Linked DNA regions of Homo sapiens: regions 2, 3, 4 and 5 are each linked to region 1. Evidence: fine-mapped expression QTL. A gene starts in region 1. Each other region holds a variant in brackets. All regions are shown on one strand. Distances are between the middles of the regions. Region 1 holds the start of PREX1 (phosphatidylinositol-3,4,5-trisphosphate dependent Rac exchange factor 1). Region 2 overlaps PREX1 (phosphatidylinositol-3,4,5-trisphosphate dependent Rac exchange factor 1). Region 3 overlaps PREX1 (phosphatidylinositol-3,4,5-trisphosphate dependent Rac exchange factor 1). Region 4 overlaps PREX1 (phosphatidylinositol-3,4,5-trisphosphate dependent Rac exchange factor 1). Region 5 has its middle 210 kb from the start of PREX1.

Region 1 (6,275 bases):
CACACATGGCCCCTATCACGGGGGTTACTTTCCACGGTTTCCATGGGCCGATGGGACCTTCACACCAAGGACACACGGAGACCAGGGTGGTCCTTTAAGGCCTGCCTCTAACCACATGGAAATAAAAGCAGGGAGGGATTACCGTGCATTCTTCCAAGCCAGGAGACAGCAGGGAAAATCCCTTAGCAAATATAAAGGCTGAGAAGAGAGAGTGGGAAGACAGAAGAGAATCACAACCTGAGGCTGCCAGCCTTGCAACCATGGAAAGCCTTGGTAATTAGCAGTTCCTGAAGCTCTAAGCCCCAGGTTAGTTTTGAAAACGAAAATGCCTTGGGATGTTTAGGGGCCATTCCTGACGGGCCAAGATGAGAGAGGACTCCTGTGGCTCACAAACAACGTATGGCTGGTCAGGTTACACAATCCGTCTGTTTCTGGCACCAGCTTGGGGACACACAAAAGGCCCAGGCAGAAAGGAAGCCCGGATTCCCCGCTCCTTGTTTCACAGGTGGGGAAACTGAGGTCAGGACACGTAGCATGATTGGTCCAAGACACATGTCCAAGTCAGAACCAATTCATCTCAGAACTGACACATCAGATACAAAAAGAAAAATGTGATGAAGTCAGCAAATGTAAAGTGTTAAGGAGATAATGTGAAAGTAGAGAAATCTTTTTTTTTCCTGTTTCTTGAATAATAAGAATGGTTGGCTCCAATCAATTTCCATTATTCCAGCTTCCTCCTACTCTACACGTGGACGATTTAAAACCACAGTTAACTCAAACACAATCTAGATCTGTTCTAAAATGAAACACACCATCTAGGGCAGGGGCGTGGGAGGGAGAGGTATATTTTCTTTCCCATTAATATCAAAATTGGTTTGTATTTCCTGTTTCTCTTCCAAGCAGAGGAGCATGGAGTGGCTCAGAAGGAGAAGTCAGGAGTTCCCTAGAATTTGACATTGCTCAGAGACACCAGGGTTGTCTACATGTTTAATTCAAAAACTGCCAGCTTCTAACAGAACAAATTCTTCCCCCACCCCCCACCCCCGAAACTGTGAGAGAAGAAGGGATGGGAAAGAAAGCCAATCCTGCCTTATTCTTACAGGCCTTCCTAGAAGGGTCCTTTAGCCAAATGGTTTTCAATGCTTCTGCACAACCCCCTCTCCCACATCCCCCTGCCCCCAGTACATCTCCTTTCACAGGCAGAAGGGCTCTAGTCTAAGGCTGTCTCCTCCCTGAGCTGGAACTCTGATCTCACACAGCCTCAGCTGCACCCCTAAGCCATGAGGAGCCCCAGAGGACCCCAGAGTCTCCCTCTTTCTCCCAAAGACTAGGAGCTACAAAGCCTGGCTCTAGGGTCTTTGAAAGAGCCACCCCCACACCAGCCCTTCCTGAACCAGGATTAAAAGACTTCCTAGAGCAGAGAAGGGGAGTAAATGAGGCCCCAGCAGGAGGCATGGAGATTAAAGACTTTAGAGTCTCCTAACTTCCATCCAAGGCTCTGCCCCGTCCCACCCCCTCCACCCGCTGGCCACTTTTCTCACTTCCTAGGAGAGTAGGGAAGTGGCCCCTTCCTCCCTCTCACAGAAAAAAAGCAAAAGAAAAATGCAGCATAGAATAGGGGTTTAGAACACCAGCTGGGATAGTCCCGGTTCAAAGCCCAGTACCCCCACTTAATCAGCTGTGCGATCCCAGACAAGCTACCCGGCCCCTCTGGAGCTAAACTTTCCCAATCTTAAAAACGGAGGAGGCAGGACCCAGTAGCTCACGCCTGTAATCCCTGCACTTTGGAGGCCGAGGTCGGCGGATCACTTGAGGCCAGGAGTCCAAGACCAGCATGGCCAACATGGTGAAATCCCCTCTCTGATAAAAATACAAAAATTAGTCGGCCGTGGTGGCTGGCGCGTGCCTGTAATCCCAGCTACTCGGGAGGCTGAGGCAAGAGAATTGCTTGAACCCGGGAGGCGGAGGTTGCAGTGAACCGAGATTGCGCCACTGTACTCCAGCCTGGGTGACTGAGGGAGACTCCGTCTCAAAAAAAAATTTTTTTAATTAAAAATGGGGGAAATACTCGTCCCTACTTCATAGACCGCCTGTGAAGGTTAAACCTGCTAATTAATGACACATGTAAGGTGTCTGGCACATAGTAAGTGGTCGGTTGTTATTTTACAAAGTCTGAGGCCGTGGTTTTGCACTTGGAGATGGGGAGTTGGTGGGGGTGGATGCAGTTAGGGAGCCTGGACTGCCGAGTTTTGAGTTCGAAACCCACTCTCCCCGAACTCCAGCAAAAACCTGTGCATGGGGGATTCTACCCTGGGGTTCTGTCAATCCCCGCCCCTCCTCTGAGCTTCAGGTTTTATCCTACTCCATCAACGCGCAGGGACGTTGGGCTCTGGGGCTCCTACGGTATGTCCTAGATGAGTGGTGCACCGGGCGCGTAGTTATTCCTGGGAAAAAGACGCAGGAGCGCCAGCTCCCGGCGCCGCCGGGGTCCCCAAGCCCCTGCATCGCGGATGTAACTAATTTTAAAACTATTTGAAAGGCGGGGACGGGGAAGAAAAGACAAAAGGGCAGCGCGCGCCGCGGGGAAGTGGAGTGCGGGAGAGCCCCGGTCGGAGCAGGACCGTGCGCCGGCCAGGGAGGGAGGCGACGCGACAGCTCTGGAGGAGCTCGGATCCCCCCCGCTTTCCGCGCGCCCTGCGGGGCGCCCCCGAGGCAATTCTCCACCCACGGGGACCACGGCCACAGGTTGTGGGGACCGCAGCGGGGCGAGCGGCTGGAGGGAAAGCTGTCCCCAAGCTCCCGAGCGACACTCACCGACTGCAAGAAGCGCAAGGTGCCCACGTAGTCCCTCTCGGTGCCCAAGATCTCGTTGAGGACGCAGAGGCGGAGGCGCAGCTGGCGCTCGGACTCCCGGGCGGCCGCGCACGGGCCGGGGCCGGAGCTGGGCGCCGCGGCGCCAGGGGCCCGGGGGTCCGGGTGGGCGCAGTCCCCGGCCCCGTCGCCGCCGGGCTCGCTGCCGCTGGGCGCCTCCATTCTAGCGCGGCCGCGCGGCGCCGGCTCCTTCCGTCGCGCCGAGCGGCAACTCAGGCGTCCAGGCGCCCCATCCCGGACGGGGCGCGCCGGCGGGCCGGGCTCAGCGGCGGGCCGGGCTCCCGGCGCGGCGGGCGGGACTGGGGGCCGGGCGGCTGGGCCGGGGGCGGAGGCAGCGCGCGGGGGCCGGGCGAGGGGCGGGAGGGGGCGGCCCTCGGGGCTCCCAGACGGCTGGCCCCCCGCCCCCGCGCCAGGGACCGTCTGCCAAGTGCCACGCCGCGCTCGGCCGCAGAGGCGCTCTGCGCGTGCACGGGGCCCCTGGGGACGCGGCGCGGCGCTCGGCGCCTCCGTCGGAAGCTCGGGGGTCGGGCGGGAGCCTCCGGAAGGGCCCCGCGGAGCCGGGAGTCCGAGGCCGCGCGCACGCCGAACCGAGCGTACCAACTCCGCGCCCGGACGCGTGGCGCCCCCCCAACCCGCAGTCACCGCGGGCTACGCCACTCCCACCCGGCACACGCGACACCCGCCGCGCGCAGGCTCCTGCTTGCAGGTCCGGCCGCTGCTCGGGCCAAGTAAACACCGGGCTGGGAAAGCTCGCTGCGGAGCCGCTCGGGGGCAAGCCAGCCCCGCCACGCGCGCCTCCGCGGCCCCGGGAAGTCAGGGGCGACCGCTGCCTGGGCAGTGACGGCCCCTCTCTGGGCAGTGACGGCCCCTCCCGGGAACGCCGGGCCCTCGCGGTGCCCTCGGTGCTACCACGACCTTGGGAAGGAACATGCGTGGCGCGCGCTCGCTCTCACTTTTCTCTTTCCCGTTTCCTTTCCCATCTCTCTCTTTCCTTCCTTCCTTTTCTTTCTGAACTTCTTTGCCCCCTGACCCTGCCCTTTCCACCTTTCCCAGAAGAAATTATTACCTGCTCTTGAGTTATTGATCAAGTGGCAGGTACCCTGCCTGCTCCCCCTTCCATCCACCCACCCCATGGGATAAGGCCTTGGGAAACCCAGCTTCTTGTCAGGTTGCTCTGGGCAATGTTGATCATCACCCGCCTTATCGGAAGGTATGGAGAGGGGAGGAAGTTCTGGGGCCTAGAGTCAGCTGCTCAGGTTCAAATCCTAGCTCCCCACTTGCTGGCCGGGTGGCCTTGGGCTGGTTTCCTTGCTTCAAGATCCTCAGTGTTTTCATCAGTATAACGGGAACGATCATGGTACCTAGCTCCAAGGTCCTCCCCGGGGTTCCATGGGAAGTACTTAGCACCTAGAAAGTTCTCTGTAAATGTTTGTTCTTACTATTATTGCATGTGTGAAGCCCAACACCTAGAAAGTTCTCTGTAAATGTTTGTTCTTACTATTATTGCATGTGTGAACGGCCCTCTAAGCCTGGCCCCACTCTCAAATGGCCCATACAATCCCTAATCACCCGTGTTTCCGGACCAGAGATTGTATCGTCTCTGCAGGGGATAAAGTGATCCACATAGTATCCGCCTCTAGACTGTAGTCATTTTATGGACAGAAACATTGCTTATTTATTCCTGTTCCAAAAGCCTAGGATTTTCCTCCCATTGGCCTCTCAATACTGTAAGTGCCTAAGGACACAGGGAGAGAATGGGGTGGCTTCTGCCCTCTCTGACTTCTTTCTTTGGGATCATGGGCAAGGTAGCATTTGATCTGGGCCTTGGGCTGAGTGAAGTTCCCCTGGGCAGGGAGTAAAGGACATGAGATAGGTGAGCCTGTCACGCTTGGGTAGTGGAGTCAATTGTGTCCAAAGGTAGCTGGTTTTTTATTTATATTTTTATTCCTAATAAAGGCCTCTGGAGTATCTCTGCTTTGTGACTTTAAACTGTTCACGGTACCTTTCTGAGCCTCCGTTTCCTCATCTTTAAATTAATTCTGTCTACCACGAGGGGAGAACATGGCTGGAACATAATGGACCATGGAATGAAGCGGGCTTGCATTTGTATCCCAGTCCAAATCCAACTGGCAGGGTAACCTTGGCCAAGACACGTTATTTCTCTGGGCCTCAGTCGTCTAATCTGTAAAAGGGGAGTCTTTGTGAGAGCGAATTCTATGCAATACAGACTTTCTCAACCTTGGGACTATTGACATTTGGAGTCACATAACTCTTTGTTGGGGGAGGGGCGTGTCCTGTGCATTTCAGGACATTTAGCCGCGTCCCCTACCCACTAGATGCCAGTAGCACTCCCTCCCCAATCTGAGAATCAAAAATGTCTCCAGGCTGGGCACAGTGGCTCCGGCCTCTAATCCCAGAATTTTAGGAGGTCCAAGTGGGAGGATTGTTTGATCCCAGAAGTTCAAGACCAGCCTGGGCAACATAGCAAGACCCTGTCTCTACAAAAAAATTTTAAAAATTAGCTGGGCATGGTGGCACACACCTGTAGTACCAGCTGCTGGGCTGAGGTGGGGAGCTTGCTTGAGCCCAGGAGGTCAGGGCTGCAAGTAAGCTGTGATCACACCACTGCACTCCAACCTGGACAACAGAGTAAGCCTTGCCTCAAAAATAAACAGAAAAAGTGTCTCCAGACATTGCCAGATATCCCTGGGGACAGAATTGCCCCCTGTTGAGAACCACTGATGTAAAGTACCTGACACACATAGCTGGCACAGAGTAGGTGCTCAACAAATGTTAGTTCCCTTCTCAGCCCATGACCAAGGAAGGTTAGCCTCAAGTTTACACACAAATCCCACATTTCACCCAAGAATTGGCCCACACTGCCAAAAAACATTTCCACGTTGTGGATGGGTCCCATCTCTGGCCCACCCCAATGTTTTATACATCGTTACTTCCTCAGATTCTGCTGGGATCTTTTTCCCCTTCCATCCCCATCCCCAGTGGTAATGATGACACTAAAAGATAATACAGCGTTTAGTAACATACTTAAGCTCTCTGTGCCTTGCTTTCCTCATCTGTGAACTAAGAATAATATCAGTACCTACATCATAAAGTCGTTGCAAGGTTCCTGAGTGCATACATGGAGGGTGCTTAGAGCACACAGTAGGTGCTCAATAAGTGAAGTCTTTTACAATGCGTGGATTGAGTGCTGAATCTAATAGGATGCATTTGGCTGCAAGGAGAAGAAAACTGGGCTATTGATAGCTTAAAGCATAAGGACATTATTTAGCAAGAGGTCCAGAGGCAGTTGGTTCCTGAGGCTGGTGTAGGACTTCATGATGTCATCAAGGATCATGGCACCTTTGACCCTCCTATCCTCAGCATGGTGGCTTTTCCTCCCAAGC
Region 2 (6,275 bases), 66 kb before region 1:
CTCCTCCTCCCATGCCCCAACTCTCAGAAGCCCTCCCTACCCTTAGAAACTCTCTCTACTCCTTGCTAGAAGGGCACTGTATCTCCTAAGCAAGCAGTATGTAAGAGTGGATGAGGCTCAAAGGCTAGAACTAGCCACCTGGTTCAAATCCTGCCCCTGCCACCTACTGCTCTGTGACCTAGGCAACTGACTCCATCTCTCTGGGCCTCATCTATAACATGGATGGGGACCATAAAACTACTGACTTCATGGGCTATTGTGAGGCTGATATGAAATACTGCAGGCAGGCCAGGCGCGGTAGCTCACGCCTATAATACCAGCACTTTGGGAGGCTGAGATGGGTGGATCACCTGAGGTCAGGAGTTCGCGACCAGCCTGACCAACATAGTGAAACCCTGTCTCTACAAAAAATACAAAAATTAGCCAGCCATGGTGGCTCACATCTGTAATCCCAGCTACTTGCGAGGCTAAGACAGGAGAATCATTTGAACCTGGGAAGCAGAGGTTACAATGAACTGAAATCGCACCACTGCACTCCAGCCTGGGTAACAGAGCAAGATTCCATCTCAAAAAAAAAAAAAAAAAAAGAAAAGAAAGAAAAAAAGAAATACTACAGGCAAAGCATTTAAATGGGCTCAAATCCCAGCTCTGCTGCTTACAAGCTCTAAGACCTGAAGTAAATTATTTATTCTCTCTGCCTCCATTTCCTCCTCTATAACGGGGGATAAAATGAGTACACAGGATTACAATGAGAATTACAGAAGCTAACACACATAACAAGCACTTGAATGGTCCCTGGTGCATAGCAGGTGCTCAAAAAACATTAGCTATTATTGGCCAGGCTCACACCTGTGAGCTCACACCTGTAATCCTAACACTGTGGGAGGCCGAGGCAGGCTGATTGCTTGAACCCAGGAGTTCGAGCAATCAATCAATACGGCAAAACCTCATCTCTACCAAAAATACAAACAAACAAACAAAATAGCCAGGTGTGGTGGCGCACACCTGTAGTCCCAGCTACTCGAGAGGCTGAGGTGAGAGCATCACTTCAGCCTAGGAGGCAGAGGTTGCAGTGAGCCAAGATCGCACCACTGCACTTCAGCCTGGATGACAAAGCAAGACCCTGCCTCAAAAAAAAAAAAGCATTGGCTATTATGATCTCCCCATCTTGAGTTTCTAGAGTGTCTGCAGGGAGTCCAAGCCCTGGTGCAGGTAGACAGAACCCACTGTGCTTCCTAAGGAAACCTGGATTTGGATCAACCACATCTGTAGGGCTTCTACATGCACCAAGCACACTCACATTTATCCCACACTATTTTTACTTATTTTTATTAGTTTTTTCCATCCTGCAAATAGCTCTATTATTATAGACTGCCTGCTTCCGAGTCTCCTGAGGTGAGATGAGAAGGGGAAGGCTTTATAAACTGCAGAGCCCCCCACATCCTCATCACCACCAGCGCACCCCTCTGCCCTGCCCCATCCTCCTTGCTGACTGCCAACCACGTGACTTCAGCAAGTCACCACACTTCTGAGTCAATTTCCTGGACCAAACAAAAAGGGGGGGAGGAGTAGTTGTTGAGGTTTAAGTGAAATGATGCAGGTGAACACTTTGTAACTACAAACACTTCCTGGAAAAAGTGGCAGAAAGGCTGAGCCAGGAGAGGGAGGCTGGACTAGGAAAGGGGCAGGAAGTTGCTTGTGATGATATTCTAGGGGGACAAGTCCTCTCCGAGTACCAACCATCCCAGCAAGTGTTAACCAGGGCCTGCCGTGCACCAGGCACCGAGCTGGGTGCTGGAGACACAGATATAAGCCATGACCCTGCCACGGAAGGACTTATGCATTCTTACATTCGCCTGTGTAGTCAGCAAATACTTACTGCACACCTATTATGTGCCAGGCACTGCGCTAAGAGCCAATGACACATCAGTGAATGAACAAATCAGACTAACTCCCCACCTTCACAAAGTAGTGGCAGAGACAGACTATACACTGATTTTAAAATAAAATGGCAGGTAGGAATGATTGCTACAAAGAAAACTAAAGCAGGGTAAGAAAACAGAGAAGGATAAGGTGGGAATGCCATTTCAAGGAGCTGTTCAGAGAAAGCCGTTCTGAGAAGATGGCATTTGAGCAGACACAGGGAGCAAACAGCATTGCGTGTATCGGAGGACACAGCATCATGGGCAGGGTCAACAGCCGGGGCAAAGGCCCCGAGGCACATTCAGTCTTTCCAGGACAATCCTATCGAAAACGTCTATCCCTGCTCTGTTTTCCTCACAGCACCTGTCACCATGGACATTATGTGTGTTTATATCAGTCTATTATCCATCTAGCCCACTTGAGTCTCACCTCCAGGAAGGCAAGGATGTTTGTCTGTCTAGGTCACTGTGGTGTCCCAGAGCCTAGGATTGGACCCAGCACACAGCAGACCCTCGAAAAGGATGTGTTTAATTAATTAGTCAATCAATCATCTAGAGTAGACTACTCCCACCCCCACCCAGATTCTAGGCCCTGGTAAAAGGTGCCCAGTTCTCACCCCACCCCGCCCCGTTCCCCACCACATCGGGAGAGGAAGTTGATGCAAAAAACAAGTTGCAACAACCTGTCATGAAGAGGTC[T/C]GATGCAACAGTGGGGGAAGGCAGTGGGGGACACTGAGAGGAACCCAATGCTTTTCTTCACGCAGCCCCCATCAAGGGGCTGGGGCCTGGCCTACAAACTTTCCTGAGTTCACCAACAACCCATCCTTCCTTCAACAGATATTTATGCAGAGCCTCCTCTACATGATGGGGCTACCTTATGGGTCTCAAACTGGTAACTCAGAGGCATCATTCCTTTGGCCTGCAGAGGGGTTTGAGAAACTTGGGCCTAAGTTTGAATATCAGGTTTCCCATTAAAATCCAAATTCCAAGCTTCTTTTGAAAAAACTGACACATGGGTCTCAAATGCCCACAAGGCTGCAGGTGCTGTAGAGCAGAGTGATAGCCATCACCTTCACCCAGGACAAGTGCTCCTCAATTTCCCACCACCCAACCCACTGCTGCGCCCTGTGAACACCTGAGTGTGAGACTTCTGTCCTAGACACAGGCAAGGCAAACCTGAACCTGCTACTTCGCCTTTACCCTCACCCAGGGCAGACATCACTAATGGAATGCAGATCTTTTTCCTGCTAAGTCTTCTCCAAGCCGTTCAGAATTTATCTCCCTTCACTGTTGTCAGAAATGGTCTAAAATCCTTCCCATTCACAACCCAGCTTCTCCCTACTCCTTTGGGCTCCTCAGTTGTTGATTTTTTTCCTGAAAAATGGGCTCATCAGAGTGGGATTCTAGCAGAGATTCTCAACTTTGGTACCTTGACAGTTCAGTGGATAGTTCTTTGCTGTGAGGGATGTCCTGAGTATTATAAGACACTCAGCAGCTTCCCTGCCCTCTACCCTCTAGATACAAATAACAACCCTCCTCTCCTCAGTTGTGACAATCAAAAATGTGTCCAGACATTGCCCATGTCCCCTGGAGGCAAAATCATCCTTGGTTAAGAACCATTGCATTATAGCAAAGCTAAGAAAATGGCCTCTAGACAGAGCCAAGTATTTTGGGTTCAAATCCTGGTTCGGTCATTTGCTGGCTGTGTGACCCTAAACAGCCTCTCTGTGTCTCAGCTTCCCTCTCTATGAAATGGGGATATAAAAATGGTACCTGACTGCTAATGGTATGAAGTTTCTTTTTTTTTTTTTTTTTTTGAGACAAAGTCTCGCTCTGTCACCCAGGCTGGAGTGCAGTGGCACCATCTCAGCTCACTGCAACCTCCGCCTTCTGGGTTCAAGCGATTCTTCTGCCTCAACCTCCCAAGTAGCTGGGATTACAGGTGCATGCCTCCACACCTGGCTAATGTTTGTATTTTTAGTAGAGACAGGGTTTCACTATGTTGGCCATGCTGGTCTCAAACTACGGACCTCAGGTGATGCACCTGCCTTGGCCTCCCAAAGTTCTGGGATTACAGGCGTAAGCCATCATGCCCAGCCAATATGAAGTTTCTTTCTGAAGTGATGAAATGGTCCTAAAATTAGATGGTGGTACAACTCTATGAATATACCGAAAACCATTCACCTGTACACTTCAAATGGGTAAACTGTATGGTGGTACGTGAATTATATCTCACACTATTACACCAAAAGAAGAAAAAAGAAATAGATACCTGCATCACGGGGGCATGGGGAGAATTTGATGGGTTAGGATAAAATGCACTAGGAAGCACTGTACGAACTGTAGCCCTTATCGTCAGCACCAGCCCTCGCCCATCTGGGGCCTGCATGGGCGTGTGGCTGGAAGGAAAAGCCTCAAGTGACGGAGACAGTGGTGGCTGGGAACAGGCCCTGCTTTGGGTGGCATTTCCCGCCGGAATGTCCTGGACAAAGAGAACCAAGTCACTCGGGGCCCCAGGATGCAGGGCGGGGTGGCTGGACATCCTGGGGTCCTTGTGCCTGTCTGCAGCAGGACAATGAGTGGAATGCGGTCTCCTCTCTGTGGGGCTGACACTTGACATCTGAAGACAATGACTTTCAAGAGGTTTTGTTTTTTCCTCAGTCCAACTATTTTTTTTCCATCTTCCCAAACAATTGTTCCTGGGGCTGGAGGGCGAGCAGTCCCCCCTTAGCTGGTGAAGGATTGTATTTGTAGAGTCAGGAAACAATGCACAAAAGTGAGAGAATGTAAAAATAGTGGCATTCAGGGCCCAGGCCTCAGTGAGGGAGGTGCAGCCATGGAGGTTTCCTCCCATTGATTTTTCCCAGAGCCTGCTCGGCCCCAGGGAGGGAATTCTGGCAGCAGAAGGGCCAGTCTTAGGAGTACAGACACTGGCTGCTTGGCTGCAGCTTGGGGTCTTCAGTTTAGGGAGTGTCAACTATGTACCCAATGCTTCCCACGATTGCCTCATCCTAGACAATCTCATCTCCATTTTACGAAAAAGGAGACCGAGGTTCTCAGTGGCTGACGCGGCAGCCTCAGAGCATGCAGCTAAGCAGACAAAGCTGGCCTCTGACCTCGGGGCCATCAGAGTCCAGGCTCTGACTTTCTGCCACATCCACTCTAACCCTCTCTTGCGATCTCAGCTTCCCTGACCAGCCACTCACTTCCCACTAGTGATGGGGCCACATCATTAAAGTTGTGACCCCCAAGCTCCACAAGGGAAGAAACTTCTGTCCCTGGAGCCCAATACAGTGCCAGGCCTTCTGATCCAACGTGAAAGGAGGGAGAACTTGCAGGACAGAAAGGACCCAGAGCTTGCAGACATCAGAGGACTCTCAGAGAGGCCCCAACAGCCCTTGACCATTGTGGTGGGCTGAACAATAATCCCTCAAAGACGTCCACATACTAATCCACGGAACCTGTGAATACACCACCTTCCATGGCAAAAGGGACTCTGCAGATGTGATTAAGGTAAGGATCTTGGAAAGGGGGGGATTATCAATAGCATTGAGGTGGGCCCAACATAATCACAAGGATCCTTAAAAGGAAAAGAGGGGCTAGGCACGATGGCTGAAGCCTATAATCCCAGCACTTTGGGAGGCCGAGGTGGGTGGATCACTTGAGGTCAGGATTTTGAGACCAGCCTGGCCAACATACCAAAACCCAATCTCTAGTAAAAATTAAAAAATTAGCCAGATGTGGTGGTGCACACCTGTGGTCCCAGCTCTTGGAAGGCTGAGGCGTGAGAATTGCTTGAACACGGGAAGCAGTGGTTGCAGTGAGCCAAGATAGCGCCACTACACTCCAACCTGGGAGACAGAGCAAGACTCTTTCTCAAAAAAAAAAAAAAAAGAAAGAAAGAAAGAAAAAGAGGGAGGTAGGAGAGTGAGTGCCAGGGGTCAGAGGAAGACCAGAAGACGCTATGCTGCTGGCTGGGAGATGGACGAGGCCACAAGCCAAGGAATGCAGGGGCCTCTGGAAGCTGGAAAAGGCAAGGAAACGGATTCTCCCCAGACCCCCCAGGAGCACAGCCCTGCTGGCACCTTGATTTCAGCCCCGTAAGACCCAGTTCAGACTCCTGACCTCCAGAAGTGTAAGATAATAAATCTGTGCTGTTTAAAGGCACAAGAAACTAATACGACTGCTAGCTCGAAACATGTACACGAAAGAAAAGCAAACCTGTTGTATCTCCATGAATCACGGCCAAACACAATCCTAATACTCTGTTATTATGATTACTACAAAACAGATATTATCATACAGTCTAGCTATACATTTCATACATTGTTTGGCATATGTTTAGTAAGCTGC
Region 3 (6,275 bases), 93 kb before region 1:
TAACGTGACTTCATCTTTGCATTCTGCCCAGACTATTTTATGAATATAAGTGCAAACATGGAAATGTGAAGATGTAGGTACCGGCTATGAAAAGCAACAGTCCTGAAAGCTTAATTCACTTGAGACAAAGATGGAAATCAGTAAATCAGTCTGCCAATTTGCCCTTCCTCAGATGTTCACTGGAGCCGGGCCAAGCAACATGAACTCACTTGTGAAGGAAACACACATTTGGAATCGAAATTCTGGAACTACTTTGTTGGAGACTGAGTGAAGGAGAAGTGCAATTAGGAATATTATTTTATAGTTTAGCACTCTGGGAACGTGGTTCATACTCCGTATGCTATGTTAGTTAATTGTTCTACTTTTATATACTGAATTCGGTATGTGCTGTTGGGAAAACAAACAGTATGGGGGTGGAGAGACGTCTGTGACCGAATGAGAAGGGATTCAGAGGTGAAAGACTGGGACTGAAACCCAGGATAAGCTCAACCACTTTTCTAGGATGGACCCCTAGAAAGTCACTTAATATTGTGAAGTCATCAAAATCACCTGTGACAAAGGCTATGCAGTGTCCCCTAATGTATTCTTCTTCCACAGTGATCACATTTCTAGCTGGGCACATGGCTGCTCAGAATAAAGCCTGTATTTCCCAGCCTTCCTTGGATCTAGGGGTGACCATGTGGCTGAGTGCTGGCCGATGGGACGTGAGGGGAGGAGATGTGTGCAGCTTCCTGTTACGCCCTGAAAAGGAGAAGGGTATGCTCTCCTTCCCGCCCTCCCTCCACCCCACCACCTGGAAGTAGGATGTAGTCAAAGGTCATCTGAGACCAGGTCAATGAGCATCATAACCTAGGGCCTTAGCCCCTGACACTGGAGCCACTATACCAGCCCCAGACTGTCTGCACCCACACTGTTAACAAGAGGGAGAAATAAGAGCCCACCTTGTTCAAACCACTGTCCTTTGAGATGTCTGCAAAGCAGACAAATGTTTATCTTGACTCATACACAACAGATAGTGGTTTGAAAGGCTCAAAGGAGGTCACAAATGACAATCCGTTTTATACATAAGTGAGGCTCTCTACAAGTGTAGGGAAGACCATCATGGATGTCTACAGTTTTTCCTGACCAAATGCAAATGCAAATATACCCAGAAATGCAAACACAAATATCCCCAGAAATGCAAACCAACTGCTTTAGGGATCCACTCTACCCTTAGGCTCTATTGTATGGGTAGACCTGACCCCACCTTCCATCTCCAGAAGTGACCAATCAGAACACCACCACCAATTACTCTGTCTACAGCAATTGGTTCAGGGATAAGGTTTTGAGCCAACGAGCATCAGACCTAGGATTTTTGCTGTTACTATGGGGAAAGGGAAGTTCTCTCTATCCTGAAGCTGCTCAGCTATCAGAGGTATAAGTCTGGAGCTGCTGGAGGCCACCCTGTTACCACTTCGGGAGAGCCTGCCTGGGAATAAAGCCACAGCAGAGAAAAGGAGAGTCAAGAGACATACATTACTGATGACATCATTTGAACACCCAGACTCTGCCATCTCTGTAGCCCTCTCAGGTCTTAAACTCCCCAGAAAAGTAAATCCCTCTGTTGTTGTTGTTGCTGTTGTTGTTGTTGTTGTTTTGCTTCTGCCAGTTTTTGGGTTTTTTTGTTTTTTGTTTTTTTTGAGGCCGAGTCTCATTCTGTCTCCCAGGTTGGAGTACAGTGGTACCATCTCAGCTCACTGCAATCTCTGCCTCTCAGGTTCAAGCAATTCTCCTGCTTCAGCCTCCCAAACAGCTGGGACTAGAGGCACATGCCGCCACGCCCAGTTAATTTTTTTGTATTTTTAGTAGAGACAGGGTTTCACCATGTTGGCCAGGCTAGTCTTGAACTCCTGGTCTCAAGTGATCCACCCGCCTCGGCCTCCCAAGTGCTGGGATTACAGGCGTGAGTCCCCGCACCTGGCCGCTTAAGCCAGTTTTAATTGGATTTTCTTTCATTTATAATTAAATAATCCTAAAAATACTAGTAATCCTAATAACCATCATAATGACAGTAGTATTAATAATTACTACTCTTGCTGCCATTTTTAATAGAACCCTTACTTTAGACCAGGAATGGGCAAAGTCAACCCTAATCTGGCCCTCTGCCTGTTTTTGTAAATAAAGTTTTATTGCCACACAGCCACACCCACTCCTCTACACATTCTCTAGGGCTGCTTTCATGCTACAATGGCATGAGCTGAGTCGTGGTGACAGAAACTGTATGGTACGCAGAGCCAAAAATATTCCCCAGCTGGCCCTTTATGGAAAAGGCTTGGCGATCCCTGCTTTAGGCAGGAGATTACCCCAGCCAAGGAAAGGATTTGGCACCATGGGGCAGCATGAAGTCCTCTTGTGCCCAGATTCCACAAGGATGAGGCCGAGTGCAAGGGAGCACCAGGGCTGACGGGTCAACTTACCAAAAGGAAGGCGCGCACGGTAGGGATCTTGTTCAGCTCCACCAGCAGCCTCAGGGCTTTCTCATGGTTGCTGCAATACTCCTCGTACACGCAGAACTTGTCCTTCTGCAAGACAAGGACAGAGCCTGTGGGAGGCAGGTCATGGTAGCAGGCAGGTGCCCTGACACATGCTGACCACTGGGCTGGTAGGGTAGGGGTAAGGACTACCCTGACCCAGGAGAAGCTACAGCAGGAGGTATCTCAGGTAAAGCGGCTCCACTCACTACCAGCTTCCCAGCCTCCACTCTTGCCCCAGGTCTGCACTCAGGGGCCTGAATAACTTTTTGGGAAGCAGTGTGGCCTGGGGGTCAAGAGCATAGACTCAAGAAGAGCAGCCTGGGCTTGCACCACGGCTCTGTATTTCCTGTGAACCTGGGCAGGTTACCTGACTTCCCTGTGCCTCGGTCTCCTTATCTGTAAGGTAGAGTTAATAAAAGTCCCTAAGTCAGAGTTGTTATAGCTGGGGGCTAGCTCTGTTGACCTCCAGATGCCCCTGAGCCCAAAGATGTACTCCTTCCAGACTAAAGGTCACCTGTGGGTCACTAGGTCCAGAACCATCAGTCAGGGTTTCCCGTACTGGAAGAGACAGGAGCCTTCTTAGCAGGAAGCTCTCAACTGAGCATTCTTGGTTCCAGATGGTTCACAGAACCCGCCAAACCCTAAACAAGGATGGCGTGGGTGAGGTCACTGGAGGAGGAAGGGTTGCAAGGCCTCAATCCTGAGCTAGGGATGGGGGTGTGCAAGAGACCCGAACAAGCTAAGGAAGGAAGAGGTGGGTCCACAAAGCAAGCA[G/C]CTCATCTTGTTTCTAAACAAGCCCCCAGATGGCCTTCCGATGGGAGGCTGCAGGAAATAGGAAACCAAAGAGAAGGGAGGATGGGTTTAGAATTAACAGGCATCCCCAGCCCACCCCAGCTCACTCTGGGGGCTCTGTGTGCATCATCTGAGCAGACACCCTGAGCCACAAAGTGCCCAGGTCAGTGCTGATGGCTAACACAGAGTACATACCCAGCACATAGTACAGGCTGCCCAGCATGTAGTACAGGCTGCCCAGCATGTAGTACAGGCTGCACGCTGCTCTCCTGGAATGGGGGTGAACTCACTCATTCCCCACGACAGCCTTACATGGTAACTACTGTAACAGACTCACATACCCATGACAAAACCAAGGAAAAGTTGCTTCCCCAGGGTCTCGCCGCTAGTGCAGTGGCAGAACCAGGACTCAAACCCCCTTAACCCCAGTGACAGTGTCAGCTCAAGGTCATGGCATAGGGTAGGGATGGGAGTGGGAGGCAAATACCCAGGGTACAAATTTCAAGCCACAAATCTAGACTAAGCTGCATCCCAAGGGCACTACACCAGAATACTGAAGGGCACAGAGTGACTCCAGAAACCCAGTTCCACATTCCCTAAGTAGAGGGTGACCTTGGGCAAGTGCTTCTCCTCCCTAGGCCTTGGTTTCCTCACCTGCAAAATGGACATCATAACTGACCTTCAACACTTAGGATGCTGGAGGATGAAATAACTTAATATATGTGAAATGAGTAGAACGGTGTCTGGCACACAATACTTCACAATACTTCAATACCACACAATACTTCAAAGTACTCTACAAGTATTAACAACAAACATAAACACAATCGACAAACATGGATCAATGGGGGAAAATATCAGACAAACCATGTTACAATTACCCACAGTGCACCCCCATACACACACACATACCACAAGACACACAATCTTGATGCATATTCCAAGAAACCACACAATGATCTCAAGCATTACAGCATGCAAACTACATGCTCCAAACACCACCACCAATGTCAGCATGCACATGGACACATGCACTGAGTCACAAACCACCACTCACTCATCAAGTATCTGCAGTCCACTGAGATGCCAACACATGGCAAGGAAGGAGAAGAGGGGACCCCAGCACCCCCAACACTGCCCAGGCAGACCTTTTTCTATTCCCACTTGTCTCAAATGGGCCTAAGGGACCATCAAGGCCAAAAGAGCTGGGTGAGTAGATGTCTGAGCTGCAGGGGATCACTCAGCCGTAGGTAAAACCTTGTGAGTGGGGGCTGCTGGACACACCTGGAACCAGGATTTCAGCTGCAGACTGTGGTGATGCAGGCTGCAGGGAAGAGGAAGAGGAAGAAAGAGTACAACTATTTTGTTGTAGGTGACAGGAACTGGCCTGTCTGGAAACCTGCTCCTGCAGAGAAGACTTGCAGTGACATAAAAAGCCACCATGACCACTCTCACCAACCACTATCAGCATCAACCCTGTAAGTGCCAAGGAGAAGTTCTGCAGCCAGACCATCTAGGTTCATAGCCCAAGTCTCCCGGTCACCAGCTCTTGGTCAAGACAAGTAACATTTCTTGGCCTCTGCATTCTCATCCATAAAGTACAGACAACAATATCATTACCATAATGGTGTTGTGAGGATTGGCAGGTGAATTTATATTAAGGGACTTCCAATGGTGCATAGTAAGTGTTCACTAAATATTAACTAGTATTATTATTGCTTAATAATGTTGTTGCTATTATCACCAGCATGATTATTTCAGAAACTTCATTACCTTTTTTATTGAACAGGGTAGGGCAGTAGGTGGGAAGGTTTTGACAGCAAAAAAAAAAAAAAAAAAAAAAAAAAAAAGACAGGCAGAGTCAGGAGGAAGGCAGCAGATAGACTCGTGGGTTTAGGGAAAGCATCGGGAGGGTCCCAGGCAGATTTTGGGAATTATGATGGTCCCTGACCCCAGGATGTTTTACGTCTCATTCATGCACTGTCCTTCTCCCCTGAATCTCCTGGGACTGTCAGCTCCATCGGGACGGCGTTTTCATCTGTTGAGGTCACTGCTGTGATGTCAATGGGGTCAGCGGCCACTGGCAGAGAGCAGGTATTGTGACTATTTGATGAATGAAAGGAAGAAAAGAGAAGGAGGAACGGAGAGGCTAAAGGGCCCTCAGACCAGCTCTGTGCTTCTTCCCAGGCTGGTCCCACCCCACCCCAGGGACCATAAGTGAGCACATGACCCAGACAAAACCAATCAGAGTTCCCCGTCCTAATAACAGTGGCCATGTGACCCAAGCTGGGCCGCAAGAGCCCGCAAGGACTCGAGCTGGAATCACTGGGAAGAGAAACTCTCTTTGAGCTGCTGTTGAACCCCTGCCACCATGTGAGGCATGCACCCCATAAGCCCCTCCCATTCTCCAAGAGTGAAATCAGCACTGCACAGATAAAAGCAGAGCCTGAGATCAGAGAAAGACCTGGTCCTGAAATCATCATACGGAGTCCTGGATCTAGCTATGCCTGAAGCCAACCTACACTCCTGAACAATTTCACTGACATGCATCAGTAAAGTCCTGTATTTGTTTAAGCCTATCTGAACTGGTGTTTCTGTCACGTACAGCAAAGACAGTTTTGATACATGCACACTCTTAAAGGCAGAAAATGAAAGACATGGACCCAAATCTTAGTGAGGTGACAGGGTCTCTCTGTCCATCTCCACAGAGATGAAGGGAAGGGACTGGGCCAGAAAGCAGGGACAAATCGGTTTCTTCCCACATACCAACCCCAGTCACTGGGTAGTGCCAGCTGGAACACTGGTGAGGAGGATTCTGGGGCCCCACAGGAAGCCTAGAGACAGAATGCTGTGATTGATTAGGAATGTCTGCCACAGGTGCAGGAGAGGGGGTAACAAGCTCACCACTGGTTTGTCATTCCTCATCCCCTGAGCCCCCTTCTACGACAAGGTCTGCAATGTTTTCCTCTC
Region 4 (6,275 bases), 200 kb before region 1:
GGTCAGGGACTCAGGGTAGGGGGCACGGGGTGGGGGGCACATGGCATGGGACACAGGGTGGAGGGCACGGGGCGGGGGCTCAGGGCTGAGAGGGCATGGGGCTGAGGGCACAGTGTAGTGAGGTGGGAGGATCTCATAGAGTCACCGCCTCACGGCACACCTGGGGGCTCATCTTCCCGGTGGGAGCAGGAGCTCCTTTGGGAGGTGACAAAGTTGTGTCTGTTGCTCCTCAAAGAGGTTCCCCATAAATGAGAGGGGAAGCCCCATCTGAGCATTAGGGGTTAGGCCAGGAGCATGATGCCAAAGCCAGGCCTGGGTCGCCAGCTGGGAGTGGACAGGAAGGGGCGGACGAGGCAGCCACTCACCGCGGAGCACCCTGGGGCATCTGGTCCTTGACTCGCAGGTTTTTGGCCAGAATCTCCACCCTTGGGCCCTGGAAGAAGGAACCATCAGGCAGGGGCCTCTGCAGGTTCAGGGCACGTGAGGAAGCACACTGGGGGGTGGGGGTGGGGCCCAGAAGCCCAAGGACCCAGAAGCTAAGATCCTTGCTCCCCTCCAGATTCAGAGAAGGCTCAGGTCTGGGGCTGGTGGCTACCAGCCCCTCATCCCACCCTGGCTGCAAGCATGCCACGCCCTCAGCCCAGGGTGCTGGAGGACCCTGTGGCCAAGCGGCCTCACCTGCTTCCGCATGATGTCCGTGGCCTGCATGATGCACTTGGGCAGCAACCCGTGGCTCCGTGCCAAGATGGCCGCCTGCTCCAGGGACACGCTCAGGGTGCTCCTGCAGCAGGGGAGGGAGGACAGCGGGTTGGCGGTGGGGGGACAGGGGTCGGGGGAGGACAGCGGGAGTCAGAGGACAGTGGGTGAGAGCTGGGGCAACTTCCTGTCCCTCCGAGGCCTCCCAGACCCAATCCTGACCATCACGGCAACGCCTCCTCCTGCCGTCCCTCCCCGCTTGCTCCTCTTCCTCCAGGCAGCCACCACCCTCACTGGCAGGCACTCTGGTGCTTCCCCGTCTGCAGAAGCCCTGTTGAGTTCCCTGTGACATTCCCAGTGCCTCGCTCAGAGGAGGACTCGGTAAATATCTGCTGAGTGAGTGGGGGACTCCCTGGGAGCCTCACGACTTGTCGGCTCCGTGGGGTTTGAGATGGACACATCGATTCACACCTCTCTGGGTTTCTCAACAGTTCTAGAACGTGGATTCTGCAGCAAGACCTCTAGGATTCCAATCCTGTCCCTCCATGTAACTCCTCTGTGACCCTGGGTAGCTGAGTTAACCTCAGCCTCCCTATACTATTAACTATGAAACAGGGAGCATGGTGGTGCACAGAGGACCTGGCCCAGCTGGAGGGGCTGTCCTGGGAACCACAGGAAGCTGAGCAGCATCCCGGCCTCTACCCACTAAAGGCCAGGAGCTCCTCCCTCCCCTAAGTTGTGACAACCAAAAATGTGTCCAGACATTGCCAAATGTTCCCCGGGGATAAAACTGCCCCTAGGTGAGATCCCCTAAAATAGGCCCCACTACTGCACTGGTAGAGAAAGACGGAAAGGAGTTAATCTGCATGGAACGTCAATGACCTAGGAGGCAGAGAGCACTGGCCCCGTGAAACATTTATTCAGCAAATGTTTCTTGAGCACCTGTCTCAGGCCAGGCACTGCTCTAGCCTCTGGGGAACAGCAGAGAACAAAAGGGGCCCCTGCCCTCCCAGATCCAGCCCTGCCCTGAGGGAGCCAAGGAGGAAATAAATACCCCAATGAAGGCTGTCTGGGGAGTGGGGGTGAGGGCTGCAGAGGAAGAGAGGGTTGGGAGGGCACTGAGTGGGGAGAGTGGGCACAGTTTGTAACGGAAGGTCAGGAAGCACTCTGGAGAAGGTGACCTCTTCCTCCCTGGGATGAGCACTGGGGACAAAGGATGGAGGTAGGAGGCAGGGGAGCCTCCAGTGAGGTCAGCAGGCCCCATAAACCAGCCATTGCTATTGTTAATGTTGAAGGAGGCTTCCGGCGGAACTACAGGGCACAGCTCTCACACACACTCACTACGGCGTTAGAGAAGCAGGTGGCTCCACAGCCCTGCTAGGACCACCTGCTGCTGCCATTCCGTTTCACAGACAGACAAACTGAGGTGCAGACAGAGCCAAGGCTCTACAGGCAATGGCAGAACCAGGATTGGAACCCAGCCTTCCTGCCTCCTTGCCACAGGACCCCAAACTGACCAGAAGCTAGGCCAGCCCCTCCCCACACCCCGACTCAGCGGGCAGCAGCTCACCTCTGCATGCCTGTGCCACACATGACCATCTGGCAGGCCCCCAGGCGGTAGCAGAGCTCCGAGGAGATGGGGATGAGGCCGGCGCCCACACTCCCAGCAGCACCAGGCTTTGGGTGGACAAAGGACTTCATGAGGCGGCAGAGCTCATCCAGGGCATTGATGGGGCGGATCAGCTGTAGGGGGTACCACACATAACCGGGGAGTTGGAGGAGGTCCTCACAGCCCCTCAGCCCCCATCTGGCCCTCCTCCCCCACCATATCCTTCTAATCCAGCTGTTCCTGCAGCTGCCTCCCAGCTCACCCCTCTGGGGATAACAATGCAATTCAATCTTCTATAACCTCTGCTCAAGAACCCTCTGTGGCTCCCCACTGCCCTACAAGCTGGCAGTCAGTGTTGACCATATATTTCAGGTCTAACCTTCCAACCTAATTCTCTTCACCTGCCCAGGTGTGTCCCCAGTGAAGCCTGAAGAAAGTGCCCTCTCCCAGCCTGTCAAGACCAACACAAGCGCCCCCTCTCCAGAAAAAGCCTTCCCTTCTGCCCCCAGCATTCCCTGACCCCCACGTGGAGGTGCAAGGGGTGGTTCACTAACGAGCTGTGCTGCGGGGACATTCTGCCAGCCAGAGTGGAAAGTCCCAAACGGCTGTGCCCACCCTCCTCCCGGAGCCCCCAGCTCACAGCCCCAAGACAGCACCCCAAAATCATCAGCACATTCAAGGCCTGCCTGACCCTAGAAAACCAGGAGGCCAAAAGACATGTGTTGAGGGTCAGAGGCAAGGAGCCCAAGGAGCCGAACTATCGAGGCCCCTCAGAGGGAGCTGCTCCCAGCTCGGAGCAACGGGGACATGTGGCAACATGGTCCCCAACAGCCAGATCTTCCCATTCCTCCAGAAAAGCTGGAAGCCTCTGTTTTTATGGGAAATCTTTTGATTTCTAAAGGTTGACAGCAAATTTGAAACACATAAACAAAAAGAATACCATACAGGTTACATCTGTCATGAGGTCCAGGCTCCAGCCTCAGAGAAATGCTGTGGTTAATAAGGCGGATTGGAGTGGCAGAGATGGGCGGCTGCCAGCGAAAATAAATCATCCCAGGAAGTTGGGAATGGGGAGGAAGCTATCATGGGAGACTTCCTGGAGGAGGAGAGACTGCAGGGTCTCAAGGGCTTTGGGGCTAGAATCTGCTGGGGCACAACCCTGGGCCTGTCTGCTGAGTCCTGACTCCTGAGCGCCCCACCCTGCCCAAGCTCCCTGCAGCAGGAGGGCACGTGGACATACCTGGTCTATCTTTACCGCCGTGGTGCTGGCATCCGTGGGCAGGTTAGACCGCTCCAGGTAAAATGCCCTGCGAGAGAAAGATGGGAATGAGGCGGGGGCCACCACACCCACCATCCTCCTGCCCCTACCC[A/G]GGTCTCAACTCCTGCAGCCACCGTGACTCCGCCCTCTGCCGACTCTCAGAATGAAATCCCTGAGAGCGCCTGCAGGCTGTGCTCACCCGCAGGCACCTGTTCCTACAACAGCCGGGGGGGAAAGAGGGGCCTCCTGAGCACTCCTCCAATGCCACCCCTCCCTGCCTGCCCGTCCACAGCAGCCCCCAGCCCTCTGCTCCCCAGGCCCTGGTCCTGCTTTTTCTCTCTTCTGAGCACTTCTCACCACTTGGCATCTCATGGCTCTGGGCTTACTGGTTTACTGTTCGTCTCCCCCTCCAGAACAGGGGTCAGCGAACTTCTTCTGTGAAGAGCCCAACGGTAAACATTTTATGCTTTGTGCACTGGAAAGTCTCGATCGCGGCCACTCAGCTCTGCCATTGCAGCACAAAAGCAGCCACAGAGGATGTGAAAATGAGTGAATGCAGGTGTGCTAATAAAACTTTATTTACAAAACAGGGAGACAAGGAGGGCCAGATTTTGACAACCCCTGCTCTAGAATATATGCTCCATGAAGAACAGGACTTTGTTTTGCTCACTGCACATTCCCAAACAAGCACCCGGAACAGTGCCCGGCCCGCAGAAGGCCTCAACATGTGTGAATGAAGGGATGAATGAATCATCACACAGGCAGGACTCAGAGTATTCCACAGATGGCGCAGAACAGACTGATGACAGCCCTGATCAATCCAAACAGATGCCAGTTTTCAGTAACTGGGCTGGATGCTTTCTCTGAGCAAACGAATGAAGCCTCATTCTCTCATTTCCAAATGATGAAGCCCAGACCCGTACTCATCTCCCTGGGGTCTTAATTCTCGGCCTGCCTCTGTCACAGAGGGAGGTGGTGAGACACACGCAGGAAGGGCTGTGGGGGAGGGTGGTAGGAGTGGGAGCTGCAGAACTTAGAAGCTGCCTCCCAGAACCTGTGGTTCCTCCTGGTGATACCTGGCTCCTGCTCTCACCCCTCCTCCCCTGGGGTTCTCTTCTGAGCAGCCAAGACCCTGGGAGCCGCACCCCTCACTCACAGGCCCAAGAGTCCCAAGGTCCCCTGTCCTAGCTCCCACCCTCTGTAGAATGAAGCCGGCTCCTCTCAGTAGGAAAGACCCACTTTGAAACCAAACAGACCCCAGTTCAAAGCTCAGCCACTGCCTGGCTGTGTGACCTTGGGCAAGTGTGTACACTTTCTGGGCCTCAGTCGCCTCCTCTGTAAAGTGGGATCCATGGCCTGCTGCCATTGAGAATCTCACGCAGGCAAGAGTGCTGTCACACAGAAGGTGCTCAAGAAAGGGTGTGCGGCCCACTGCCCATGCTGGGGGTCCGCCTGGCACCTTCCATGCTAATGCCCACTCCACGTGGAGGTTTCCTGACTCCTGCCCCCAACGGGGACCCCAGGCGGATACCTGAGTTTGCGGTAATACTGCTGAACTTTCTCCAGGGACTGCGCGTTGATGTCCTGCTGCAAATCCTCCGCGGCCTGGCTGCCTGGAGAAGGCAGCCCCTCCACGTTCTCCAGCACTGGGAGGGGAGATGTCGGGGGCGGGCAGGCGGTTGGGAGCCGGTGTGCTTGGTGGCCTTGGCCCGGCCCCCGTGGTCCTCCCTGCCCCAGGCCTGAAGCTCACCTTTCGTGAACAGCGCTGTGTGCAGCCTCAGGCTGGCCCCACCCTCCAGGCGGGAGGGCAGCTTGGAGAAGTGGTAGCTGTCGAGGTAGAAGATGACCTTCAGCGCCTGCCGGCTGCCCTCAATGTGGTAGAAGACGTTGGTGTCTGCGGAAGGATATGGGGCAGGATGACTCACCACCGAGGCCAAGGCCAGGGGAAGCCCTGGCACACCTCTCCAGAACAGCTGGCACCTCCCTGCCCCCAGGTCCAGGGGGGCACCCTGGGACCTCCCTGTTCTCCCGACTCTACAGGGGTAGCCTCAGACCTCCCTGCCCTCCTGCCCTCTAGGGACAGCCTCCAGCAGCCCTTCCCTCTCACTCTCCGAAGAACTGCAGCTGACACCTCCCTTTCGCCTGCTTCATCAGCTCCTAGTTCCGCTGCTTAATTCTTGAACCTGATGCGGACTCTGCCTACTTAGGGGGTCCACAGCATTTGGGGTCAGAGCTTCCCCAGCGCTCCTTGTACCCTCACCCGGTAGCCCATGGCCCCTGCCTGGGAAAAGCTGCCCTCAAACAGGGTATACATCTGATTCATAGCCAGAAGGAAGCGCTTAGGGCAGGGGGTGCAAAATATGGCACCCAGACCCCATCCTGCACCCATGGCAGACATCACTCATCGATCAAAGCTCTGCCCGAGCCAATCTCAGCCTGGAGACAGGCAGCTGCTGCTGCCTATCAATTCCAATTGCTACTCAAAGAGAACCTGCCCTTCATCTAGACTCTAGTCCATGCATTTTCAGCAGGAGAGACACTGTCCCCAAGGAGGTGAAAACTGGCTCGTGGGAAGGAGAATGAAAACACTTTCCTCTTTTAATGTATAATAAGCACAGATGCACAGATAAACAGACACAGGGTATACCCGTAGTAGTATAATTTCATGGGGGTGCAGCAATTAGGAAAAATTGACTAAAAAGGTTTTTTATG
Region 5 (6,275 bases), 210 kb before region 1:
CTCTTCATATGAAATCCCCAGTTACTCTGGGAGCAGCCTCCATGGCGGATCTCCCTGGAGCACGGAGGTGGAGACGCAGGCGAACACACCTCTCTGCAAACTGAATGGATGCAATTGGTCCCCAGGGCCTGAGTCTAACATGGGCCCTGGGCCTCACTTTCCCAGAAGGCCTGGATTCCTAAATGTGGGAGTCACCTTCAAATGAGGCTGCGTCTAGAGTCTCAGAGAAACGAGGACTGTGAGGACCCAGTAGCCCCCTTGGGGCAGTCACCCACAGCCTGGCGCTGATCAAAGGCTTTGCCTGCCCCTCCAACCCCGACACCGGGAACATGCGGTTGGGAGCCCATGCTGCAGATGGGGAAACCGAGACACAGACGAGTCAAGTGACTTGCCCAGGAATCCAAACCCAGGAATCCGGACCCAGGGAGTCCGGCCACAAAGCTCAGGCACTGACCCACGAGCCCTAATCCCCATCTTTACAGCCCCCTCCTTCCCGTCCTCACGCCCAGATGCACCTGGGATGAACGTACTTTTACAAAGTCAATGTAGTTCTTATTTCCTGAACAGCACCACGATAAAGAGTTCGTTTGTTCCTTCAACATTTCAGCCAGCCCGTGGTTTCTATAGCCCTTTCTTGGCATTCCTTCACTTTTAATACACTGGAAGCCCCAAGAGGGAAGCCCCCTGGGTCTTTCCTTGGTGACCTGCTTCTGCCAGCAGCGAGTGGGGCTGCGGGTGGGGACCCAGGACCTGGGACAGGACAAATCCCGGCTCAGAGGCTCCTTGACTGCGTGCCCCTCGGGGAGCGCCTTCCCCCTTCAGCTCCTTCAGCTCCACAGTGGGAGGACAGCGACAACCATGGTGCCCCCCTAGGGCTCTCGTGAGGATTCAGTGAGGTGATGTGCACAGCCTGCGACACACAGTAGGGGTTCAATCAGCACCAAGCATCAGTGTCCCTGCAGTCCCTATGGGGCACGGGGATCTGCCTCACCTGTTAATCAGGAGGAGGAAGGCGAGTCTTTCCTTTTCTTTTTGGAGTCAGTCTCTCACTCCATCACCCAGGCTGGAGCGGAGCAGTGGTTTGATCATGGCTCACTGCAGCCTCGACCTCCCTAGGCTCGGGTGATCCTCCCACCTCAGCCTGGGACCACAGGCTTGCACCACCACCCCAAGCTAATTTTTTTTCTTTATTTTTAATAGAGACAGGGTCTCACTATGTTACCCAGGCTGGTCTCAAACTCCTGCGCTCAAGCAATCCTCCAGCCTCAGCCTCCCAAAGTGCTGGGATGACAGGCGTGAGTCAGGGCACCTGGCTCTAGACTTTCGTCGACGTCCTTTCTGGCTCAGACATTCTGAGCCTCCACCATCGGGTAGGGTCAGACCTTCTGAGCCTCTGCCATCCAGACAGACCCAGATGGATCAGAGGAGGGTGCGAGGGTGAGGGTGAGGCAGAGTGTTCCCAGTCCCTCTTTATGGCCAAGACTCTGCAAACAGGACATGGATCTGGCTTGGATAGGACACAGATGTGACAGCCCTCATGTCTCCCCAGCCTCAGTGCCCCAGGACCCCCTGCCCTCTTCCTGACAGCAGGGGATGTGAGGGAAGGAGGGCAGCCCTGCATCCCACACCCAGGCCCCCTCCCCTCCCCTGATACCCAGCAGCCACGGGTCCATCGTCTTCCAGTGTCAGCCACGCACCATGAAAACAGATACCACCCACCGGGGCCATTCCTGTGCTGTTTTTCAAAGAGCTGTTTGGGCCAAAAGCCAGCAATGCAAGTCTGTGTGCCCTGCAGGGCTGGCCCTCCTCCAGCTCTTCATCTCTGAACCTCCTGTCCCTGGAGCAGCTCATCTCAGCCCTGCCAGTGTCTGGAAAGTGCCCATCATCACCTACAGCTCTAGGAGGGCTCTGGCGAAGCACAAATCAGGACCTGAGAGCATCTCCCGTTACCCATCAGCCCCGTGGCGGTGACATGTGTCCAGCAGGCAGCAGAGCCACTGGGAGGGGCACAGGGTGGGTTGGCTCTGATTGGAGCGGACATGGCAAGAAGGATCTGGAGGTGGAAGCCAGGGCAGCAGGGCCAGCTGCAGGGTGGGGGTGCTCGGGCAGCCCAGCATGGGGAACTGGAGCCTGGAAAGTGCTGGAAGGGAAACATTGCAGGAAGCAGGAGGACAGGGAAGCACCCACCCCACATGCTGGGCAGAGGCTGGCTAGGGACCCGCCCTGGGAGTGGATGGACTTGAATCCTGGGCCCCTCTGCTGAGACCCTCAGGACTTCGGGATGGGAAAACAGAACAGCACAGGGCCGCTGCAGTGACCCAGGGAGAGGAGCTGAGCCAAGCCACCCTCACGCACCCAAGGACCTGCCCCTGGGCCACACCCCAGACAGAGCCCCGGGCTCAGGGTCTGGAGCCACACGGCCTGGGCTCAAATCCAGCCACTGTCCTTGTGAGCAAACTTTGGCTGCAATAATGGGAGGTGCAGCTGGTGAAGGCGCTGGCAGCGGAGGCATTTCCTTAGCATCCCTCTCCTAACCACCCCTGCCCCACTCCAGCCCTCCAGGGAACGCTACCAGTGCCCGGAGGGAGGCAGCTTCAGGCTTGGCTTTCGGCCTCCCCTGCCTGCAAACCCCGAGCTCCAGGCTTGCAGTGGGAGCCTCCCAGGAGCTCTGGGCAGGAGGCCCGCAAGGCTAGGCGGGGCGCCCTGGCCCACAGCGCCATCTAGTGGCCGTCACTTCCACAAAGGTGCACCAGTGACTGTGGGTTTCTGGTCACAAGCTTCGTAAGCACCCCGCTTTACAGTGCATAAGGGCCTTTCATATCCTTCTCCTCCAATCAGAAGAGAGGAAGGGAAAAAAGAGAAAAGAGAGAAGGGAAAGATCCCCGAAAGGAAAGAATTGAAAAATCGAGTCAAGCTCACAGACATATGTTATGGGACAAAGACAAATATAGAAAAGCTTAGAGAGAGAGAAAGAAAATGAGGGGGACGAAAGTAAGAAAGAGACAAATTTTAAAAAGTTTTTAAAAAGAGAGAAAAAAAGAGAAAATATTCACGGCAAGCCCAGCCCAGGAGAGGGATAGCGCCAGTGCCCATTGTCCAGACGATTCCAGGCCCCGCCTCCAGGCTGGCTCTGTCCCAAATACCTGCACCCAGGAGCCAGCCTTCGGTCTGAGTGCTGGAGCCCGGGGAACAGCAGCCTCTGGGCACTACGCGGTCCCCAGCACCACCTGCTGGACAGACAGGGCACTACACTTATCCCGGGAAGTTCCACTTTGGGGCCCTGGAGGAGACTCCTGGTACCCCCGCAAGGCAGCCAGGTGGGCGTAAAGTCTCCATTTCTCAAAGAAGGAAGCTGAGGGTCCCAGAAAGACAGAGAATCTCAGATATGGCCACTCAGCAAGTATCAGGTGTTGACAGATTCAGGAGCAGGCGAGGGTGTCTGACTTCAAAGGTCCTAGTCCAGCCCCCCATGAATGAACCCACGTGGCAGACACAGAGGTTAGAGGGGCCCGCTTGGCCACAGATGGGTGTGGCTTGC[G/A]CCCCCCGCTCTGATCACTGTGCTAACCCTGCTTTCTTCTATTAATATTTAGCCGTGATTCACCACTGTCTGGCCCTGGGCTACAGTATGGAAGGGGTGTGGTTCCTGCTCTTACTGCTGGGGGGAAGGTGGACAGGAAGTACACCAACAGTTATTTAGATAAAATCATAAAGCGGTCAACACACCCCATCGTACCTTCCACTTCCTGGGTGGCCTCTGTTGCAGTCCACGCCAAGGGGCCATCTCTGGGTCAGCACCTTTTGACAGATGAAAAAACTGAGGCTCAGAGGAATTCAACCACCTGGGCCCTGCCCTCATCCTGGAGGAGCAGAGAAGGAGAGGCTCCGAGAGACGTCAATGCGGGGCTGCGCCTGCCCCTTGATTCTCCATTGGACGGCACAGTGACTCCGGGTCACCAGGTCCTCCCCGAGCTGACATCGCCATGGCAAGTCCAGAGCTAAGGATCTGGCCGTCAGCGTGAGCAGGCCGGATGAGTGCTCGGACCACGTGGCTCCGGGGAGCTGGAGAGCTGGCACCCTCCTCAAGAAGACAGCCGCTCCTCAGCTCCAGCTGACATGTAGCCAGGTGGGAATGTGGACCAGTGTGACCAGAGCTTCTGATTTTTTCTTTAATCTTTTTTTTAAGAGGCAGGACCACACTACGTTGCCCAGGCTGGAGTGCAGTTGGCTATTCACAGGTGTGATCAAAGCGCACGACAGCCTTGAACTCCTGGTCTCAAGCAATCCTCCCACCTTTGCCTCCAAGTAGCTGGGACCACAGGTGCGCACCACCACACCCAGCTCAGAGCTTCTGATTTTCGAGACAAACTAAAAATCAGAATTCAGAGATGAAATTTGCTGGTTCATAAATATAATTCATTTTTTTAAAACACCATATCAGGAAGGAAGTAAAAAAAAAAACCCACATTTAGTTCCAAGTTTCAGCCTGGAGCCATCAGTTTGAGACCTCTTGTCTCCTGCAAAAATGTCCGCTTGCTCTGAGAGGCCCTTCGTGCTTAGTTTTATACTTGGAGAAACACATCTCGGAGAGGGAGGTGGGCCCGGCTCTCCCTCCCAACTCTGCAAGCACAGCTCTGAGCCTGTAAAGTATGCAACTTGCTCAAGGCCACAGAGAGCCGGCTGGAAACCCAAGCTGCTCCTGCCTACGGCCCCAGGAGAATGTATGTTCCTTCTGCGGGCCCCCAGGGTGGAGGAGAGGCTGAAATCGATGCTTTCTAGAAACGTGTCTGCCTGAAGGAAGACGTCCAATCCTCCCTGTTGACCTCAAATATAGATTGAGGTAACAGGTCTTCCCTCGAAGTGATTTTCCCTGGATCCAAACACTGGCCTCAGATAATTCTAAATAATCAATCCATGACTGTGCCTGAAACCCCACCAGGATTCCCTCTTGCCTGTTAGAGTATTGAGTCCTTTGAAACCTGTAACTGAGAGACGCGAGGATCTCTCTCTGGGAGGGATCCAATCTGGGCCTTCAGAGAATGTAATCTGCAACAGGTTAGTTTGGAAGGAAAAGAGACTGAAAGAGAAGGGGCTCGAGTGTGAAATGGCAGGGCTGGGTGCAGCACCATGGTACAGGGGAGTCCCAAGGGTGGCCATGACCCAGAGGAAACTGTCATCGATTTCAGCATTTTCCAAAGGATTGGAAATCGGGAAAAGATGGAATAAAGAAGAGGCCATACGCAACATACCGAAACCCGGTCTCTATAAAAATTTTTAAAAATTAGCCAGGCATGGTGGTGTGTGCCTGTAGTCCAGGCTACTTGGTAGGCAGCATACTGAAACCTGGTCTCCACAAAAAATTTAACAAATTAGCCAGGCGTGGTGGCACGTGCCTGTAGTTGCAGTTACTTGGGATGCTGAGGTGGGAGGATAAATTGAGCCCAGGAGGTCGAAGCTTAAGTGAGTCATGATCGCGCCACTGCACTCTACCCTGGGTGATAAGAGCAAAAGACCCTGTCTCAAAAAAAAAAAAAAAGGACGAGGGGGCACAGGGCTGGCACAGCAGAACAGGTCTGCAGCCCAGGGAATGAGGTTTCTCTGACTATGCAAACAAACCCAGGCAGCTTCATAAAGATCACCTGGGCCCAGGCAGGTGGAGAACCTGCTGACAGCCTAGGATGCAGCCACCAGGCCCAGGTGTGCACGCAGACTCTCTATTCTCATTGGTGCATTTCACGTCTGCCCAATAGGCCTGTTTGTGGCCAGCGTAAGTTCTGGCTGACTGGGGGTCCGGCACGACCATGTTGTGGGTATTTTGAACTCCACTCCCGCCTGGATCCAACAGGCCTTGCAGGTTGGAGCGAGGAGGATTCTATGGCACCCCTTGGATCCACACTGTCCCCTCAGCACAAGTAAGCCACCCAGGAGGAGGTGTGGAATTCCTGGGAAAACAGTCACTTTTTCCTACCTTCACAGTGAAATGGGAGCTCAGAATCCAGGGGGGAAAAAAGCTGAAATATCAAATAAGGCCTGTTATTTTCCTGTATACCTGGGTTGCAGGCAATCCGTGCAACCTCGGGTCGTCCTCAGCAATCACCCCGCGAGAGAAGCTGCATCGCCCCATTATCAAGGAGGAAACTGAGGCACAGAGTGAAAACATCACTGACTTCGGGGTCGCTGGTTCAAGGCCCCGATGCAGAGATCAGCACTGTCCTCCATGAGGCTTTTAAAGCGCGAGCTCATCCCCTAGTGCCCCCGGCCGCACCCACCCCCCAAGC

The links.
Region 2: its variant is fine-mapped to the expression of PREX1 in whole blood (TOPMed, PIP above 0.99).
Region 3: its variant is fine-mapped to the expression of PREX1 in lung (TOPMed, PIP 0.99).
Region 4: its variant is fine-mapped to the expression of PREX1 in whole blood (TOPMed, PIP above 0.99).
Region 5: its variant is fine-mapped to the expression of PREX1 in whole blood (INTERVAL, PIP above 0.99).

Annotation. Positions count from the first base shown.
Region 1 is chr20:48,824,828-48,831,102 of GRCh38, forward strand. It overlaps PREX1 (phosphatidylinositol-3,4,5-trisphosphate dependent Rac exchange factor 1), which reads right to left and starts at 3,172. Exons shown (of 40, transcript NM_020820.4): 1 at 2,815-3,172. The coding sequence starts at 3,033. RefSeq lists silencers at 2,666-2,735, 3,146-3,825.
Region 2 is chr20:48,758,982-48,765,256 of GRCh38, forward strand. All of the region lies in intron 1 of PREX1 (phosphatidylinositol-3,4,5-trisphosphate dependent Rac exchange factor 1), which reads right to left. Among named protein-coding and RNA genes, the nearest start is that of PREX1, 66 kb to the right of the region's middle. RefSeq lists enhancers at 1-39, 2,420-2,469, 3,916-4,691 and silencers at 1,840-1,889, 5,905-6,083. The variant T/C (reference allele first, on the strand shown) is at 2,622.
Region 3 is chr20:48,732,090-48,738,364 of GRCh38, forward strand. PREX1 (phosphatidylinositol-3,4,5-trisphosphate dependent Rac exchange factor 1) reads right to left here. Exons shown (of 40, transcript NM_020820.4): 4 at 2,457-2,561. Among named protein-coding and RNA genes, the nearest start is that of PREX1, 93 kb to the right of the region's middle. The variant G/C (reference allele first, on the strand shown) is at 3,288.
Region 4 is chr20:48,627,183-48,633,457 of GRCh38, forward strand. PREX1 (phosphatidylinositol-3,4,5-trisphosphate dependent Rac exchange factor 1) reads right to left here. Exons shown (of 40, transcript NM_020820.4): 34 at 5,314-5,457; 35 at 5,095-5,209; 36 at 3,546-3,612; 37 at 2,267-2,439; 38 at 679-781; 39 at 366-433. Among named protein-coding and RNA genes, the nearest start is that of PREX1, 200 kb to the right of the region's middle. The variant A/G (reference allele first, on the strand shown) is at 3,676.
Region 5 is chr20:48,617,941-48,624,215 of GRCh38, forward strand. No RefSeq gene overlaps it. Among named protein-coding and RNA genes, the nearest start is that of PREX1, 210 kb to the right of the region's middle. RefSeq lists enhancers at 977-1,477, 1,513-2,221, 3,044-3,103 and a silencer at 2,614-2,743. The variant G/A (reference allele first, on the strand shown) is at 3,539.